4 linked regions of the Homo sapiens genome follow. Changing the gene in region 4 together with the main gene of any one other region gives a genetic interaction. Each region holds a gene or a part of one and is shown on either strand. Other genes may lie near its edges. The genes, in order: PBRM1, CHEK1, STK11 and TYMS.

The links.
Region 1: changes in TYMS (region 4) and PBRM1 together harm fitness more than expected from each alone (negative genetic interaction), as found in Homo sapiens cells (one large-scale study listed by BioGRID).
Region 2: changes in TYMS (region 4) and CHEK1 together harm fitness more than expected from each alone (negative genetic interaction), as found in Homo sapiens cells (one large-scale study listed by BioGRID).
Region 3: changes in TYMS (region 4) and STK11 together harm fitness more than expected from each alone (negative genetic interaction), as found in Homo sapiens cells (one large-scale study listed by BioGRID).

Annotation. Positions count from the first base shown.
Region 1 is NC_000003.12:52,604,251-52,609,446, reverse strand, and holds part of PBRM1 (protein polybromo-1), read left to right. Parts: coding exon 1-134; intron 135-5,196. UniProt on the Homo sapiens protein: Involved in transcriptional activation and repression of select genes by chromatin remodeling (alteration of DNA-nucleosome topology). Required for the stability of the SWI/SNF chromatin remodeling complex SWI/SNF-B (PBAF).
Region 2 is NC_000011.10:125,651,862-125,657,057, forward strand, and holds part of CHEK1 (serine/threonine-protein kinase Chk1), read left to right. Parts: intron 1-1,884; coding exon 1,885-1,986; intron 1,987-3,363; coding exon 3,364-3,459; 3' UTR 3,460-5,196. UniProt on the Homo sapiens protein: Serine/threonine-protein kinase which is required for checkpoint-mediated cell cycle arrest and activation of DNA repair in response to the presence of DNA damage or unreplicated DNA.
Region 3 is NC_000019.10:1,218,797-1,222,903, forward strand, and holds part of STK11 (serine/threonine-protein kinase STK11), read left to right. Parts: intron 1-527; coding exon 528-617; intron 618-1,576; coding exon 1,577-1,709; intron 1,710-1,784; coding exon 1,785-1,921; intron 1,922-2,416; coding exon 2,417-2,544; intron 2,545-3,152; coding exon 3,153-3,210; intron 3,211-4,107. UniProt on the Homo sapiens protein: Tumor suppressor serine/threonine-protein kinase that controls the activity of AMP-activated protein kinase (AMPK) family members, thereby playing a role in various processes such as cell metabolism, cell polarity, apoptosis and DNA damage response.
Region 4 is NC_000018.10:663,223-668,418, forward strand, and holds part of TYMS (thymidylate synthase), read left to right. Parts: coding exon of another isoform or gene 1-2,054; exon of another isoform or gene 2,055-3,174; intron 3,175-3,614; exon of another isoform or gene 3,615-4,457; coding exon of another isoform or gene 4,458-4,530; intron 4,531-5,196. Other genes in the region: ENOSF1 (mitochondrial enolase superfamily member 1), read right to left, coding at 1-2,054. UniProt on the Homo sapiens protein: Catalyzes the reductive methylation of 2'-deoxyuridine 5'-monophosphate (dUMP) to thymidine 5'-monophosphate (dTMP), using the cosubstrate, 5,10- methylenetetrahydrofolate (CH2H4folate) as a 1-carbon donor and reductant and contributes to the de novo mitochondrial thymidylate biosynthesis pathway.

The sequences.
Region 1 (5,196 bases), on a different chromosome or scaffold from region 4:
CCCAACTTTCCTAACAAACCACCCCTTACATTTGACATAATTAGGAAGAATGTTGAAAATAATCGCTACCGTCGGCTTGATTTATTTCAAGAGCATATGTTTGAAGTATTGGAACGAGCAAGAAGGATGAATCGGTATGTTTTCAAAGCCATTTTTATTTTGAGGATATGTGCTATTTAATACAAAACAGATGAAAGAATATTGCTTTGATGTACTATTTCCACTTACATACATGATTTGTAGTTGGTAGCATGCTATTCTGAATTCTAATCAGCCAGAACTTCTTAAGAGTGAGTATATTCTGTGGGGGAGAGAAGGCACACCACTAAGTCATCTAGTTTAAGGCCAGTGAGGAGGAAGACAAAATTGAAAATCTCTTGAAAAGCATAAACTTAAAATACAGCCTTTCATAGAATGTGTTTTTTAAAAAGATAAATGTTTCTAATTGGAAATAGTAACAGCGTTTTTCTTTTAAGGTTTGGCTTCAGTGCACGAATGCTTTAAATAAAATAGCTCTAAGGTGTTGTCCTGAGGTTAGACTGATAGAAATTTGATCACCATTTTAAGTACCTCAGAGGGTTTCTTTTTTTTTTTTAATCTCAGGTTTCTCACCTTAAGAGCTTGCTGAAGACATTAAATGTTCTAAAAGAAGCAATCAAATTTAGATTTACTTTAAACTTAAATTTCCTTCTAATTTTTATCTGTGATATATCGTTGCTACATGTCAATAGCAGACTTGACTATTAAATTCAGCAATTACAGTGTATTTTATATGTGCACTTAGAGACAGTTGGAAAAATATAAAAAAAAAAAAGATACAAACCTTACCTTCCTGGAGCTTACAGCCTATCATGTTTAGAACTAGACCTTCAGGCAGTGTAATGCCAGCTGGGGAATCTATGAAATCAGAATTTGCTCTGAACCTTTAAAGAAAAGCAAGTAGTAATGTTTGCTTTCAGTGTCTTTGCAAATAAAAGAAAAAAAACATAGTAACATTTGCTGCTTGTGTTAAGCACCAGCTCTTCGTAAAGCACCATGCTAAGCACTTTATGAAGGCAATCTCTAACCCTTATGATAGCCATTCTAGATAAGTGATAATCTTTTCAGTTTGCATGTGAAAGAATTAGAGGCATAGGCAGAGAAAAGTTACCCATAGTCTTACAACTAGTAAATGATGTGACTTGTCTTGCTCTCCACTGCAGAGGGCTACTCCTGAGCCAGTTACCAGGACAAGTCATGGAGCACGGCCATAGATGATAAGCCTTGAGCTCTGTGCTCTAAAAGCTTGAAGTCTGATGGATGGGCCAGGACTTACGCTTAAGGGAAAAATAATTCCACACATGAGACAACATGCCACAACCTTATATTTAGTAAAGATGGTGATGTAAGGAACTCTGTGGGCCACAGTTCTCCTTAAAAGGCATGGGATGATAGGTAGGGTTCAAATGAATAGGCCAGAGGATATTTCAAATAAGATGAATGTTATGAGCAAAGAAATGGAGTTAGGAAATGAATATGATATGTTTAAGAGACAGGGATAGAGTTGGGGCCAGTTTGGTGAGGCCCATGTGTGACACTTTTAAGAAATGGTCCTTAATAATATGGTTCTTCAGCAATTGAGTAGAAATAAAGAGAAGGATGGAGGGACATCTTGCAGTCAAAAACTCTTGGAGTTACTCATTTATTCAACACATATTTATTGAGAGGCTACTTAATGAGCATATTCTAGATGCATGTAATACACCAGTGGGCAAAACAAACTCTGCTTTCATGTAGCTTAGACTTCTTTCTGTTCTTGTTCTTGGCTTAAGTAGTCCTTAAGTCTAATACCCCTCCCTTCCTCTCCTCCCTGCTTAGCCCCATTACATCTTGGTGTTAGTTCTGTGAGTCTTTCAATGAGTATTTGTCTTCTAGATTATTAGGAACTTCGTTTATGTCTTATAGATGAAATGTTTATTTTAAGAATTAAGATTTGTATCTCTAGGAAATTAGCTCTTTTCATTCTCCCATTGTTGACATGGTTGTTTTTTGCTTTTGAGGCCTGGAAGATAGAGTCCAAGGTGTATTTTTATGAGATAGTGATGCACACAGTTTTACCCTCATGCCCAGAGCTTTGTTGAAAAACAAAAGGGATCCCTGGTAATTTAGTAGTTAGGAAAAATTTTTTAAAGAAAAACATACGGGGAGCCATTCTTAACTTTGTGAACAAAGATAGTATTGTGATTGCTTATAGTACTTATTAAGAATAAGTACTTAATAAGAATTGATGGAGATGCATCAATTTAGTGAATGATAAACTATGCCTTTATCTACTATATTATCAGTAACAAAGCTAGGCATCCCAGAAATATTAGTTCATAAATTCAATGAAGTCTACATACCGTAGATTTCCATGTTGATCTCTAAGAGTCTTCATGCTTCATCACCATTTACCCCTACCCCTACCCACCACTGCTACCCAACATCACCTAGGACTTCACAGGCTAAAATAGAAGGAATCTGAACAGTGAGACGTAACAAGAGAAAAATTCACTCAGGTGACAATAGTTTGTCCATCAACAGTATTTAGTAACAGCACAGTGCTGACTCATGCCAGTTGGCTGCTGGCTTTCCTAAACTGCTGGCAGTATTCCCAGACTAAACACTCTGATCCCCTTGCAGGTAAAAGAGACCTGTGGGAAGATGAACAAGGGAAGCATTAAGAGCCTCCTGTATTCTTAATTATTTCCTTTTGCTGAATGTCTGCCTTATATAAAAAGATTACCAATTGAGGGGAATTTAGAGTTCTTTTTCCAGCTTGCGTTTATGTTCCTGCACATTCAATGAATACCTGACCTCGTAGACTAATAAATTCTTTATAATGCTTTGAATAAACAAAAGCATATACTAGGTGTTTAGTGACTCTTGTACAGAATGTTCATTTCTAAACCATGCGATATGATGGAATTATGATCTGCCCTTTTAGTATACCATGAAAGGTATTTACAAAAATTTTACAAAAATTTTTTACTTTTAATTTACAGAAATTTTCACTTTTTATACTTAAAATTGTACACTATTATAAAATGAACTTTAATTTCAAGTGAACAGAATTCAAATATCTTCATTCAGAAAACAAACATAAAATTATGTTTTAGGGGCCAGGTACAGTGGCTCACACCTGTAATCCCAGCACTTTTGGAGCCCAAGGTGGGAGGATGGCTTGCACTCAGGAGCTTGAGACCAGTCTGGACAATATAGCAAGACCTTCCTTAGCTCTACTTAAAATAAAATTTAAAAAATCAGCCAAGCTTGGTGACATATGCCTATAGTCCCAGCTACTCGAGAGGTTGAGGTGGGAGGATTGCTTGAGCCAGGAGATTGAGACTGTAGTGAGCCATGATCGTGCCACTGTACTCCAGCCTGGGCAGCAGAGTGAGACTGTGTCTCAAGAAGAAAAAAAAAGTGTTTCAGGGGTGTCTTCCCTTGGTAAGTTTTATTTTTATTGCTTTCCTACAAGTATTAGCATTTCTATGACCCCAAAAGATATTTAAAACCTTTCCAAGGCCGGACACAGTGGCTCACACCTGTAATCCCAGCACTTTGGGAGGCCACGGCGGGCGGATCACCTGAGGTCAGGAGTTCGAGACCAGCCTGGCCAACATGGTGAAGCCTCGTTTCTACTAAAAGTACAAAAATTAGCCAGGCATGGTGGTAGGTGCCTATAATCCCAGCTACTTGAGAGGCTGAGGCAGGAGAATCGCTTGAACCTGGGAGGCAGAGGTTGCAATGAGCTGAGACCGCACCACTGTACTCCAGCCTGGGCAACAAGAACGAAACTCCATCTCAAAAAAAAAAAAAAAAGAGACTTTCCGGAAACACCCATTTAGATTATTGATCGTGTCTTTTAATTGTTTGTCAGTTCACCTTTGCTGATGGGAGCAGCATTCTGGGGACCTCTCTGAAGTTTGATGCTCTAGTGGCATGTATCAGTAGGTGGCCTACTTGGCCACACTCCTCTGACCAGAATGTCTCTGTAACTGCTAAGACCTTTGTGGTTAGTTTTGTGAATAAGTTTTTAGACTCTGGTATTCTTAGTTAATAGAATTTGATTTATGCCAGCCAGGTGTGGTGGCTCACATCTGTAATTTAAGCACTTTGGAAGGCTGAAGAGGGAGGATCACTCGAGGCCAGGAGTTCGAGACCAGCCTGGGCAACACAGGGAGCACCCTGTTGCTACAAAAAATTTTAAAATTAGCCAGCCTGAGCCCAAGAAGTTGAGGCTATGGTGAGCTGTGATCACGCCACTGCACTCCAGTCTGGGTGACAGGGCAAGACCCAGCCTCAAAATAAAATGAAATAAAAACAATTGTATGTAAACCTTCCTCAGACCACAGTGGTACTAGAAACAGTAATAAAATTTCCTCCAGTCAAAATTCTAAAGTCTGAAGTTTATTTTGCCCACTCCCCACATTTTATTTATTTATTTATTTATTTATTTATTTATTTTGGGACAGAGTCTCACTCACTCTGTTGCCCAGACTAGAGTGCAGCGGCGCGATCTTGGCTCACTGCAACCTCCACCTCCCGGGTTCAAGTGATTGTCCTGCCTCAGCCTCCTGAGTAGCTGAGATTACATGTGTGCACCATCAGTTTTTGTATTTTCAGCAGAGACTGGGTTTCACCATTTTGGCCCACCTTGGCCTCCCAAAGTGCTGGGATTGTAGGTGTGAGCCACCACAACTGGCCTGTTTATTGATTTTTTTTTTTTTAACAGACAGGGTCTTGCTCTGTTGCCCAGAGTGGGAATGCAGCGGTGCCATCATAACTTACTGCACCCTTGAACTCCTGGGCTCAAGTGACCCTCCCGCCTCAGCTTCCCGGATAGCTAGGACTGCAAGTGTGTACCCCAATGCCAGGCTACTTTTTTGTTGAGACAGCGTCTTGCTGTGTTGCTTAGGCTGGTCTCAAACTCCTGGCCTTAAGCAGTCCTCCCGCCTCGGCCTCCCAAAGCATTGGGATTATAGGCATGAGCCACCATGCCTGGCCGCTTTATTTCATAAATGAGGAAGGAGACTCAGAAAAGTTCTGGGTATGACATACATAATCTTTTTTCCATCTTTCACTATGTTGCCTTTGCTGGTTCCCCAGAATTACACAGTTATTTCTGGGAAACTAAAATGAACATTAACTCTGAGGCCTGTAACCATTATAGAA
Region 2 (5,196 bases), on a different chromosome or scaffold from region 4:
CAGGTTTTTAAAATTGCTTTTGTGGAGTAATGGACTTCTGGAGTTCTTTTCTCTGCCATTTTCACTGACATCACTCCTTGATTCACTCTCTCTCAGTTCTTGAAGTATTTTCTTTGTCTTTGAAGTTTAAGAGCTTAATTCAGATGTGTTGAGTTGAATATCTTGTATTAATTTTCCCAGAACATAGTGGGTTATTTCAGTGCTGCACAGTCGTGGTATGGTTGTGTGTTTTCATAGTTTCTTGAAGTAAGAATTATTACAAAAACTTTTGTAATTTGGGCTGTGTTTTTTGGGCAAATCTGCTGATCTCGCTCGGGCTTAACTCATCCAGCTGTAGTCATTTGATGTCTTTACTGTGGCTGGTGGTCTAAAACATCCTTACTCCCATATTTGGAGTCTTGGCACTGTCTGTTAGCTGAGTCTTTTCTTTCTGCATCATTCAGCTAGGCTGAGCGTCTTTCCATGCCATAGGAACGTTCTAAAAGACTGAAAGTGGAAGTTGAAGGCCTCTCAAGACCTTTGCCATCTTCTAATTGCCGCTCTAGCTTTTCAGCCACAAGTCAGGCCTTTTTCTTTCTCACATTTTAATAATCTTGTTTTTCCTCCCATTATGTTTTCATCTTTGATTGTTTCTTCTTTCAGTGGTATTTTGGTAAAAGACAGTAAGTTTTGTTGCTATGAGTTCATATACACTCAATCCCTAGGAGCTGCACCCCTGTTGATAGATTGGGTTGGGGACACACATACCCACTGGGAGAAGAGAGACTCTGGAATGAGTGAGATTATCAGCATACTTAATATTACTCCTGTTATGGAGGTAGCCAGCAAATTTTTTTTAATTGATACAATAATTGTAATGTATTCATGGGGTATGTAGTGATGTTTTGATTCATATAATGTATAATGATCAGATCAGGATAATTAGCATATTCATAATTTCAAACATTGTGGGAATGGGAATGTTCAGTGATGGGAATGTTCAGTATCCTTCTAGCAATTTGAAACTCTATTATTGTTAAGTATAGTCATCCTACAGTGGTCTAGAACTTACTCCTATCTAGCTGTAATTTTGTATTCTTTCATGAATCTCTATCTTTCCCTTCCCTCTCCCCTTCCTGGACTCTAGTATCCTCTGTTCTGCCTTCTACTTCTATGAAATTAACAGTTTTTTTGTTTCCACATATGAGTGAGAACATGTGATGTTTAATTTTCTGTTCCTGGCTTATTTCACTTTACATAATGTCCTCCAGTTCCACCCATGTTGCTGCAAATGACAGGATTTCATTCCTTTATATGGCTGAGTAGTATTTCATTGTGTATATATATCATATTATCCTCATCTGTTTGCTTGGCTTTTTGTTTTGTTTTTTTGAGACAGGGTCTCGCTCTGTCGCCCATGCTAGAGTGCAGTGGCGCAATCATAGCTCACTGCAGCTTCAACCTCCTGGGCTCAAGTGACCCTTCTGCCTCAGCCCCCTGAGTAGCTGGGCCTGTAGGCATGCACCACCATGCCCGCTAATTTTTTGGGAATTTTAGTAGAGATGAGGTATCGATATGTTGCCCAGCCTGGTCTGAAGCGATCCTTCTGCTTTGGCCTCCCAAAGTGCTGGATTACAGGCGTGAGCCACAGTGCCTGGCCTACACTCATCTGTTGTTGGATACCTAGGTTGATTCCATATCTTGGCTATTGTGAATAATGCTGTAGGGTTGCAAATTTCTCTTCCATATAATTTCCTTTCCTTTGGATCAGTAGTGGGATTGCTGGAACATATAGGTAGTTTTATTTGTAGTTTTTTGAGAAACTTCTATTCTGTTCTTCATAGTGGGTTTACTAGTTTATTATCTACTCACCCATGTGGCTTAACCTTATTTTTGTTGCCTTAGGTTACTATATCAACAACTGATAGGAGAAACAATAAACTCATTTTCAAAGTGAATTTGTTAGAAATGGATGATAAAATATTGGTTGACTTCCGGCTTTCTAAGGTATTTTTATGTTTTATTGTATTCTTTCTATGGAAATATTTCTATATGAATTTTTTTAATGGCATTATGTTTGTATATATGTGGCATTTGTAAATAGGTTACTTGCTTTTTTCGTTTAATATTATGAGCATGTGTTTTCGTTATCTATTTTTCCCGAACATTGTTTTTTTCAAATGACATTTTCCTTATTATAAAAGTTTTTGCCAGGCGTGGTGGCTCATGCCTGTAATCCCAGCACTTTGGGAGTCCGAGACGGGTGGATCTCGAGGTCAGGAGTTTGAGACCAGCCTGGCCAACATAGTGAAACCCCATCTTTACTAAAAATACAAAAAATTAGCCAGGCGTGGTGGCGGGTGCCTGTAATCCCAGCTACTTGGGAGGCTGAAGCAGGAGAATCATTTGAACCTGGGAGGCGGAGGTTGCAGTGAGCCGAGATGACGCCACTGCACTCCAGTCTGGGTGACAATACAAGAGACTCTGTCTCAAAAAAAAGAAATTTCTGCTTTTGTGAAAAATGTAGATAAGCAAAAAATGAGAAAATAAAAATAATTCTAAATTTTCAGTGATCACATTAATATTTCGAAGCATTTTAATATTTTTCTTAATTTATGTCTTTTAATAAAAATTATGATTTGTTACAAATATTTCATTATAATTTAATGAACCTTTACCAGTTATAATAATTCTGTGATTGCTATTTTATGCATAGATTTTTTTGTTCATATTTCTGATGATTTCTTTAGAAATCATTGATTCTAAGATGATAGTATTACAGCCCTTGATATATAAAACCAAAATAACATTTTTCTCTATTTTCTGAGAGATTGTATGTGGCTCTAAAGAGGGTTGGAGGGGTAGCTGCTGTGTTAGAGCATTTGCCGCAGTACTCTTTGTATTAGAGATTTGCTGCAATACTGTTTTTCAGATGCTTGCTACAGAATTAAATTAAGATCGTAGTATAATGAAATTCTTCTCATAACTAAATCTATTGATTTTGGTCAGTAGTGTTATGACAACAAGACTTCAGTTTAGTTGTATAGTTTATTGTTAGTTTCCAAACCCTCACTGCCTATGGAATGTAATGACTTAGGTCCAGATATACCAACACCTGAAACAGATAGGATGCCATGTTTATCTGCTCTCTGAGCTCAGTGCAGTAGGAACAGTGATGGGCATGAAACCACATCAGAATTATTTGTGTAACAATTTTCTCTTCCAGGATATTTGGTCTTCATAAACAGACCGAAAAGAAAATGGTAGCTAGACATACCTAAAGATGTTTGTCTCTTGTTACCACTACAAAGAGATTGATTTTAGGACAGAATTTTGTTTTTGTTTTTGTTTTGACATAATTTTTTAATACTATTTCTAATATAGGGTGATGGATTGGAGTTCAAGAGACACTTCCTGAAGATTAAAGGGAAGCTGATTGATATTGTGAGCAGCCAGAAGATTTGGCTTCCTGCCACATGATCGGACCATCGGCTCTGGGGAATCCTGGTGAATATAGTGCTGCTATGTTGACATTATTCTTCCTAGAGAAGATTATCCTGTCCTGCAAACTGCAAATAGTAGTTCCTGAAGTGTTCACTTCCCTGTTTATCCAAACATCTTCCAATTTATTTTGTTTGTTCGGCATACAAATAATACCTATATCTTAATTGTAAGCAAAACTTTGGGGAAAGGATGAATAGAATTCATTTGATTATTTCTTCATGTGTGTTTAGTATCTGAATTTGAAACTCATCTGGTGGAAACCAAGTTTCAGGGGACATGAGTTTTCCAGCTTTTATACACACGTATCTCATTTTTATCAAAACATTTTGTTTAATTCAAAAAGTACATATTCCATGTTGATTTAATTCTAAGATGAACCAATAAAGACATAATTCTTGTGACTTTTGGACAGTAGATTTATCAGTCTGTGAAGCGAAGCCAGCTTCAAAACATATCCCCAAGATTTGTACTTATATTTTCAAAAGGGCCTGGCCAGTTATATAAACCTGTTTTTGAATTATAATGATTAATTAAAATTGCAAGTAGGTGTTTTTTCCAGTGTAGTTAGTAAAATACTTGTATTTTACAGTGTTGCATAAACTCTAGTGCTTAACTAACTTTACTCTAAAAATTACTGTTGAACATCTTAAATATTTTTCTATATTTTCTACTTTCATAGCCATATTTTAACCTTTTCAACTTACTGGTGACCAAGCTTTTAGGTGATAAAGAATAAAAGAGGGAAGGGAAGAGTAAGGAAGCTATAAGAAAAATAGATCTGATTCTTTGTTCCTTTACCTGTTAGACTTACAAAAAGTTTGTTTTTCTAATAAAATTTGTATCAACTTTGGGGCATATTAGGTTGAGGCCTTGGCTCCTGCCTGTAGTCCCAGCTACTTAGGAGGCTGAGAGAGGAGGATCGCGTGAACCTGGAAGTTTGAGGCTGTAGTGAGCTATGATTGCACCAGTGCACTCCAGCTTGGATGACAGAGTAAGACCCTACCTCTAATAAAAATTTTTAAAATTGTAAAACATTATAAAATTAATCAGTTATTTTAATCTGAAGCCAAGAACATGTAGAATGTTATGATTAGAGTTTATCACATATTAATGTATACTGGCAAATTGTGTTACTGGAGTATACCCATAGGAGGAATAAATTCAAACCTGTTTTATTTATTTGAACCTATTTACGGTATGCTTAAGAATTGAATCAGTATAAATTCTCAAATATGGGAGAAATTTTGTTCTTGAGAATTATCTGAGTCATTAATATTTTTCAAAAACAGCTCTCACTGACTTGAACCTCTTCTGTAAGCTCTAACCTTTTACCTGCTTTACATTTCCACTTGAATGTCTAGTAGGCATCTCTTGACCAAAAACAGCTTTTGATTCCTGTTCTCCAACCTGTTCCTCTCCTAGTTTTCTCCATCTCAGAAATGTTACTTCCTCTGCAAAGTCTTTCCCTGACTTATCTAAAATAATAACCTCCTCTGTTTGCTGTGGGAATTTGTATAGAATGGTGGGAAAATTTCAAGTTTCATATTTGGATTAGCTCTGACATTTATTTATCTGAACACTGGTAATTGCCTCAGTAAAGACACTGATAATAAGTACCTTTTAGAGTTATTTTAATCTTTAATGCTTTAATGTGTAGGAAGAGTATAGTGTCCTGTTTTGCACAGAAAGGCATTCTGTAAATAATAAGTTGCC
Region 3 (4,107 bases), on a different chromosome or scaffold from region 4:
CCACGCGGGCTGACCGTTGTGGGCCATTTTGGTCGTGGCTGGGCGTGTCCTCGTGTCATCTGTGGACACCCCCATGGGTCTTACGGGCACAGCCTCCCTACGGGGACTTTGCTTCCTAAGGCCCTGTGCCCAGAGCAAGAGCCAGAAGTGGTCCTGAGGCTGGGGCTGTGTTCCCTGAGCCACGCGGTCAGGGGCCCTGGGACCGTCCTGCATGGGCCCGAGCCTGCTTGGGGGGGCGTCCAGGAGGCACCATCCCCCGCCCATGGGCAGGGTGGGGGACGTGAGCCCCGCAGGAACGCTGCCCCAAGAGTCAGCCCTGTCCTCCCCTTCCCCGTAGGCTCCTTCCTCCTGGGACGCTGGGGCCCCTGGGCCTTTTCAGAGGGGTGGCTGAGGGCAGGGTGGGCCCTGGTCCCGAGGAGGGGCAAGGTGGGTGCAGAGGGTCCCTCCAGAGCCCCTTTTCTGGCCCCCGTGCTCCCTGGGCCTGTGAGTGGGGCCGCCCCCTGAGCTGTGTGTCCTTAGCGCCCCACGTATATGGTGATGGAGTACTGCGTGTGTGGCATGCAGGAAATGCTGGACAGCGTGCCGGAGAAGCGTTTCCCAGTGTGCCAGGCCCACGGGTGCGTGCGCGGGGCAGGGGCCAGGGTGGGGCGGGGGCCGGGGGCCAGGCAGGGCAGGCTCCTTTCCGTGAGGCCACACTGCTTGTCCTGATATTCATTGACATGAAGGCCCAAGTTTTTTTGTTTTTTTGTTTTTTTGTGTTTTTTTTCGAGATGGAGTCTCACTCTGTCGCCCAGGCTGGAGTGCAATGGTGCGATCTCGGCTCACTGCAAGCTCCGCCTCCGAGGTTCACGCCATTCTTCTGCCTCAGCTTCCCGAGTAGCTGGGATTACAGGCGCCCGCCACCACGCCCGGCTAATTTTTTGTATTTTTAGTAGAGACGGGGTTTCACCGTGTTAGCCAGGATGGTCTCAAACTCCTGACCTCGTGATCCGCCTGCCTCAGCCTCCCAAAGTGCTGGGATTACAGGCATGAGCTACCACGCCCGGCCTTGTAAAGGCCCAAGTTTTTAAAAACAGTTTTGGGGTCCCCCATGTGTGGCATCCACAGGCAGGGCTGCTGCCAACCTCCCGCCTCCATCTTTGCTGGGCCTGCTGCCTGAGGCCAGTGGCCTGCTTCCAGCCCATCGCTGGCAGCCGCCTGCCCTGACCAGATCTCCTGGATGCAGGTCTGTGGCCTCAGAGTCAGGGCCCCTTGCTGCTGCAGGACCACAGGGGCAGGGAGGGGCCTGCTGTTCCAGCAAGACTTTGGGGTGCAGCCGGCCTGTGGCCCACAGGAAAATGAGACCTGTGGACATCCGGGGCCCTGCCAGACGTGGCTCGGCCGGACGAGGGTGGCCACTGCAGGCGCAGGTGTGGCTCCCTGCTGGACCTAGCCTTTCCTCTGTCCTGTGTGCCTGGACTTCTGTGACTTCCCAGCTGGGCCTGTGGTGTTTGGGAGGCTCCCAGGCAGCTGCAAAGGGGACCCCTGTGAGGGGCAGGGAGGCCTCGGCCCCAGGACGGGTGTGTGCTGCCCGCAGGTACTTCTGTCAGCTGATTGACGGCCTGGAGTACCTGCATAGCCAGGGCATTGTGCACAAGGACATCAAGCCGGGGAACCTGCTGCTCACCACCGGTGGCACCCTCAAAATCTCCGACCTGGGCGTGGCCGAGGTAGGCACGTGCTAGGGGGGGCCCTGGGGCGCCCCCTCCCGGGCACTCCCTGAGGGCTGCACGGCACCGCCACAGGCACTGCACCCGTTCGCGGCGGACGACACCTGCCGGACCAGCCAGGGCTCCCCGGCTTTCCAGCCGCCCGAGATTGCCAACGGCCTGGACACCTTCTCCGGCTTCAAGGTGGACATCTGGTCGGCTGGGGTCACCCTGTAAGTGCCCCGCCCCCCCGGGCACTCACCACACGCACACTCCGAGGGGCCTCTGCGTCTTGGGCAGCTGCCGGCCTGTGGGCGCAGGGCGTGGCCACCGGCCCAGACCCTCTCTGGCCACAGCCGCTAGGGGGTGCTTACTTTATGGAAATGTAACTCATACGGCAGATGGTGGTTCACCCGTGTGAAGTGCAGCCTGGCCCGTCAGGGATCTTCACAGAGTGGCACGGCCGACCCTCCTCCCAGAGCCCCACAGGGAAGCTGGGCGGGTGACAGCAGCTCCAGGCCCCTTCCCCGGGTGGGTCCAGAGGACACTCCCCTCCTACCCCGTAGCCTCCACTAGTGGAAGGTGGTGAAGACAGAGGTGTCCTTGAGTCCACAGGGCCTCTGGTCCAGCAGCCACGGGACGCCTCTGTCCCTGGGGTAGAGCTGGGGCTCCTAGGGCGTCAACCACCTTGACTGACCACGCCTTTCTTCCCTCCCCTCGAAATGAAGCTACAACATCACCACGGGTCTGTACCCCTTCGAAGGGGACAACATCTACAAGTTGTTTGAGAACATCGGGAAGGGGAGCTACGCCATCCCGGGCGACTGTGGCCCCCCGCTCTCTGACCTGCTGAAAGGTGGGAGCCTCATCCCTCTGCCCGCAGCCCCAGGGAGGCGGGGCTTTTGTGCAGAAATGTAGGGTTGGGGGTGTCAGGTGGGGGGCTATTGGCCCCGAGACCCCAGCAGGCATTGAGAGGACTGAGTGGAGAGGCCGACCTCCCCGCAGGGCCTGGTTTGCCAGGTCCCTCAGCTCCACCCTGCTTCTGGGCCCTGTTCACCCTCCGAACTCCCACCCCAGAGGGCAGTGCTGCCCTGCGCCTCCCCCAGCCCCACCCTCGGGGGCTCCCTGGCTTGCAGGGTCTGTCAGGGTTGTCCTGCTGCACTTCCTACGCATGGCAGCAGGTGGCACTGGCCGTCCGTCCATCTGCCCAGTGGCCTTGGGAGAACGGAACCGCCCTGGCCGTCCAGCCCAGCCCTGTCTCCCTGCCAGCCGCGCACAGGCTGTCCCCGGCATGTCCCAGGAGTGGAGTGGCCTCTGTCAGGGAGACCGCCTGTGCGCGGGGTCCCCCTTAGGAGCGTCCAGGTATCACCCAGGGCCTGACAACAGAGGCTGGGCAGGCGGGGACGGTTGGTGGGGTCTCAGGCCTGTGCCCAGCTGACAGGCTCCTCGCCGGCTTCTCCTCAGGGATGCTTGAGTACGAACCGGCCAAGAGGTTCTCCATCCGGCAGATCCGGCAGCACAGGTGAGCGGCCCCTGGGGGCAGTGGGGCCGAGGCTGCAGGGAGGCCGGCCATGTGGGCAGCTGGTTGAGCGGGCGCTAGAGCAGGGCGTGGTGGGGGTGCCAGGCTGGGCTGGGGCCAGACCCCGTGCAGCGCCCGCAGTTCTCGGGGCCCGAGTGGGGTCTCTGGGCAGTGTCCTGTTACCGGCCAGACCCAGGCGCCTTGTCCGAACTGGGGTCTGAGTGAGGACATGCGTCCGTCCCTGCCCTAGGCATGGAGATGCGCCAGGAAGGGCACAGCTGGTCCCAAACACTGGCGAGAGCCTCTCTTTTTCCCCTCCTCCTGGGGCTCCCAGCAGCAGGGTGTGGCTGGGATCCAGCCCAGGGCCCCCAGCTCCATGACAGGGAAGACAGAGCAGCGGACGGGGTCAGCAGGCCCCACAGTGCCGCCTCCCTCACTTCGTGGGCTCTGCTCCTCTGCACCAGCCCCTGGAGGCCCTTGAGCCGTCTGCTGGAGCCCCTCCGAGCCCCGAGGCCACCCACTGAGACCGGCTCTGGGAGTGGGAGTGTCCGGACCCCTGAGGCGCTGGTGCTGATTGTGCCTTGGGGGTCTCTGCACAGCTCGGGTCATCTGGGCGCCTGGCGGGGACTGGGGCTGCCCCCCGATAGCCTCCTGGGCTGGGATGTGCTCAGGGCCCCCCAGACCCCCTTCTGGCCTTTGCTGGCTTTGCAGCCAGCATCCATCTGGTGGGTGCTGGCTTCTGAGTGCCACCTGGGACACAGGCCTCAGGGTGGAGGGGACATCTGTCAGGCTTGGAGTCAGGTCAGCCTGCCTGCTCCTAGAGGACATGGCTGAGCTTCTGTGGTCACAGCCACCCCTTGCACGGCCTGGTCCCAGCTCCTGAGTGTGTGGCAGGTACCC
Region 4 (5,196 bases):
TGGTGTCTCATTGTGGTTTTGATTTGCATTTCTCTGATGGCCAGTGATGGTGAGCATTTTTTCATGTGTTTTTTGGCTGCATAAATGTCTTCTTTTGAGAAGTGTCTGTTCATGTCCTTCGCCCACTTTTTGATGGGGTTGTTTGTTTTTTTCTTATAAATTTGTTTGAGTTCATTGTAGATTCTGGATATTAGCTCTTTGTCAGATGAGTAGGTTGCAAAAATTTTCTCCCATTTTGTGGGTTGCCTGTTCACTCTGATGGTAGTTTCTTTTGCTGTGCAGAAGCTCTTTAGTTTAATTAGATCCCATTTGTCAATTTTGTCTTTTGTTGCCATTGCTTTTGGTGTTTTAGACATGAAGTCCTTGCCCATGCCTATGTCCTGAATGGTAATGCCTAGGTTTTCTTCTAGGGTTTTTATGGTTTTAGGTCTAACGTTTAAGTCTTTAATCCATCTTGAATTGATTTTTGTATAAGGTGTAAGGAAGGGATCCAGTTTCAGCTTTTTACATATGGCTAGCCAGTTTTCCCAGCACCATTTATTAAATAGGGAATCCTTTCCCCATTGCTTGTTTTTCTCAGGTTTGTCAAAGATCAGATAGTTGTAGATATGCGGTGTTATTTCTGAGGGCTCTGTTCTGTTCCATTGATCTATATGTCTGTTTTGGTACCAGTACCATACTGTTTTGGTTACTGTAGCCTTGTAGTATAGTTTGAAGTCAGGTAGTGTGATGTCTCCAGCTTTGTTCTTTTGGCTTAGGATTGACTTGGCGATGTGGGCTCTTTTTTGGTTCCATATGAACTTTAAAGTAGTTTTTTCCAATTCTGTGAAGAAAGTCATTGGTAGCTTGATGGGGATGGCATTGAATCTATAAATTACCTTGGGCAGTATGGCCATTTTCACGATATTGATTCTTCCTACCCATGAGCATGGAATGGTCTTCCATTTCTTTGTATCCTCTTTTATTTCATTGAGCAGTGGTTTGTAGTTCTCCTTGAAGAGGTCCTTCACATCCCTTTTAAGGTGGATTCCTAGGTATTTTATTCTCTTTGAAGCAATTGTGAGTGGAAGTTCACTCATGATTTGGCTCTCTGTTTGTCTGTTATTGGTGTATAAGAATGCTTGTGATTTTTGCAGATTGATTTTATATCCTGAGACTTTGCTGAAGTTGCTTATCAGCTTAAGGAGATTTTGGGCTGAGACAATGGGGTTTTCTAGATATACAATCATGTCGTCTGCAAACAGGGACAATTTGACTTCCTCTTTTCCTAATTGAATACCCTTTATTTCCTTCTCCTGCCTAATTGCCCTGGCCAGAACTTCCAACACTATGTTGAATAGGAGTGGTGAGAGAGGGCATCCCTGTCTTGTGCCAGTTTTCAAAGGGAATGCTTCCAGTTTTTGCCCATTCAGTATGATATTGGCTGTGGGTTTGTCATAGATAGCTCTTATTATTTTGAAATATGTCCCATCAATACCTAATTTATTGAGAGTTTTTAGCATGATGTGTTGTTGAATTTTGTCAAAGGCCTTTTCTGCATCTATTGAGATAATCATGTGGTTTTTGTCTTTGGATCTGTTTATATGCTGGATTACATTTATTGATTTGTGTATATTGAACCAGCCTTGCATCCCAGGGATGAAGCCCACATGATCATGGTGGATAAGCTTTTTGATGTGCTGCTGGATTCGGTTTGCCAGTATTTTATTGAGGAATTTTGCATCAATGTTCATCAAGGATATTGGTCTAAAATTCTCTTTTTTGGTTGTGTCTCTGCCCAGCTTTGGTATCAGGATGATGCTGGCTTCATAAAATGAGTTAGGGAGGATTCCCTCTTTTTCTATTGATTGGAATAGTTTCAGAAGGAATGGTACCAGTTCCTCTTTGTACCTCTGGTAGAATTCGGCTGTGAATCCATCTGGTCCTGGACTCTTTTTGGTTGGTAAGCTATTGATTATTGCCACAATTTCAGCTCCTGTTATTGGTCTATTCAGAGATTCAACTTCTTCCTGGTTTAGTCTTGGGAGAGTGTATGTGTCAAGGAATTTATCCATTTCTTCTAGATTTTCTAGTTTATTTGCGTAGAGGTGTTTGTAGTAATCTCTGATGGTAGTTTGTATTTCTGTGGGATTGGTGGTGATATCCCCTTTATCATTTTTTATTGCGTCTATTTGATTCTTCTCTTTTTCTTTATTAGTCTTGCTAGCGGTCTATAAATTTTGTTGATCCTTTCAAAAAACCAGCTCCTGGATTCATTAATTTTTTGAAGGGTTTTTTGTGTCTCTATTTCCTTCAGTTCTGCTCTGATTTTAGTTATTTCTTGCCTTCTGCTAGCTTTTGAATGTGTTTGCTCTTGCTTTTCTAGTTCTTTTAATTGTGATGTTAGGGTGTCAATTTTGGATCTTTCCTGCTTTCTCTTGTGGGCATTTAGTGCTATAAATTTCCCTCTACACACTGCTTTGAATGTGTCCCAGAGATTCTGGTATGTTGTGTCTCTGTTCTCGTTGGTTTCAAAGAACATCTTTATTTCTGCCTTCATTTCGTTATGTACCCAGTAGTCATTCCGGAGCAGGTTGTTCAGTTTCCATGTAGTTGAGCAGTTTTGAGTGAGTTTCTTAGTTCTGAGTTCTAGTTTGATTGCACTGTGGTCTGAGAGATAGTTTGTTATAATTTCTGTTCTTTTACATTTGCTGAGGAGAGCTTTACTTCCAACTATGTGGTCAATTTTGGAATAGGTGTGGTGCGGTGCTGAAAAAAATGTATATTCTGTTGATTTGGGGTGGAGAGTTCTGTAGATGTCTATTAGGTCCGCTTAGTGCAGAGCTGAGTTCAATTCCTGGGTATCCTTGTTAACTTTCTGTCTCGTTGATCTGTCTAATGTTGACAGTGGGGTGTTAAAGTCTCCCATTATTAATGTGTGGGAGTCTAAGTCTCTTTGTAGGTCAGATGATTGGCACTTACTGGGCGCTTGGCACTTTCCATACTGTGTCATCGGCAGATAGCTGCATGGTTGGTGTTCGTGCTGGGGAATGGGAAGTTCATCGGTGGGACAAGGGACAAAATGCCCCCATTGCTTTGTTGTGGCTTTAATCTCCCTTTCGAGGCTGAGCCACAGCGTGCTGTAGGTGGCGCTGCTGTGAAGCGCAGTGCCAGGGTCACACTCCACTCCCAGCTCTGCAGAGGTGGAGAAAGAATGAAACATCTCACTCCTGGACTTCCACTTTCCTGTCACTGTTGGTGTCACCTCTTACTGGATGTCACAGAGCCCAGCCCCTCCCACCTGTCCCTAGGAAAAGCAGATGCCACCTTGGAATGTGGGGTTTGTGTGTGCAATTTACTAGCTGGGCAGAGACCAGCAACCTGGAGAGCAGGTGTCTCATCTAAGGGGACAGTCACATTTCACCTCCAGCCACCTGGAGGAATTTGGGCCTGGTGATGTCAGAATTCTTCAATAAAAGCCTAAAATCTATATTTTATGTGCGGTCATGAGATCTGTTAAATGTTAGCAACTTCAGGAAGTTTAAAAATGCTGTGTGGACCTAGAATAGGCAAGTTCTTAAAGGCAGAAAGTGGAATGCTAGTTTCCAGGGACTGGGGAACAGGGAGGAATGGGGAGTTCATGTTTAATGGGCACAGAGGTTTTGTTAGGGATGACGAAAAAGTTCGGGAGATGGTGATGGAGATGGTGATGGTGATGGAGATGGTGATGGTGATGGAGATGGTGATGGTGATGGAGATGGAGATGGTGATGGAGATGGAGATGGTGATGGTGATGGAGATGGTGATGGTGATGGAGATGGAGATGGTGATGGAGATGGTGATGGTGATGGAGATGGAGATGGTGATGGTGATGGAGATGGTGATGGTGATGGAGATGGAGATGGAGATGGTGATGGTGATGGTGATGGAGATGGTGATGGTGATGGTGATGGTGATGGAGATGGTGATGGTGATGGTGATGGTGATGGAGATGGTGATGGTGATGGTGATGGAGATGGTGATGGTGATGGAGATGGAGATGGTGATGGTGATGGTGATGGAGATGGTGATGGTGATGGGATGGTGATGGAGATGGTGATGGTGATGGTGATGGAGATGGTGATGGTGATGGAGATGGTGATGGAGATGGTGATGGTGATGGAGATGGTGATGGTGATGGTGATGGTGATGGAGATGGTGATGGTGATGGTGATGGTGATGGTGATGGAGATGGTGATGGTGATGGTGATGGTGATGATGGAGATGGTGATGGTGATGGTGATGGTGATGGTGATGGAGATGGTGATGGTGATGGTGATGGTGATGGAGATGGTGATGGTGATGGTGATGGAGATGGTGATGGTGATGGAGATGGTGATGGTGATGGTGATGGTGATGGTGATGGTGATGGAGATGGGTGATGGTGATGGTTGCCTAACATCAGGAACGTGCTTAATGCTTCTGAATTGCACACAAAAATGGCAAGTTTAATATTATGTGTACTTTATCACAATGAAAAAAGCTGCTGCGTGGGCCAAGTTACTTGTGCAGGTAAGTGTTCTGCAGGTCGTTGCCTGCACCTCAGTTGTAGGGTGTCCGTAGGATGTGAGGCCAGTCCCCGGGCTTAATGATGCTTTAAATCCTGCCTAGTATTCAATTATTTCTTGTCGCTTAAAAGGCCTAATAAAATTATGGTTTTAGTTTACAGTGGTATGAATGCTTAGCTGTTGGATTTTAGTAGGAAAGTTTGTCCCTTTTTGTTTTTAATTTTGTTTTACAGATTCACAGGAATTTTTTTTTTTTTTTTTTTAATGCACAGAAAGTTTCCCTGGACACACTACCCAGTTTCCCCCAGTGATAATATCTTGGGTAACATCCTGTATACATTCACATTGGTGCATTCCTCAGAGTTGTCAGATTTTGCTAGTTTTACGTGCACTTGTGTATGTGTGTATTTGCAATTTTAGCACGTGTAGACTCTTGTAACCACTACAATCAAGTTACAGAACTACACTACCAAGGTTCATCTTTTTAAAATCTTTGATGTTACCTTTTTCGGAACAGTGACCATGAGAGGACTTTCCTCCCAAAATTTTGAGAACTACTGAACCAGAATATAGTCTGACACTAATAGGTAGAAATTTAACCAAAGGAGATTATGAAGCTCTGCACTTCAGTTAACAAATCACTTCTCAGCTTCCAGTTCCATCTCAGAAG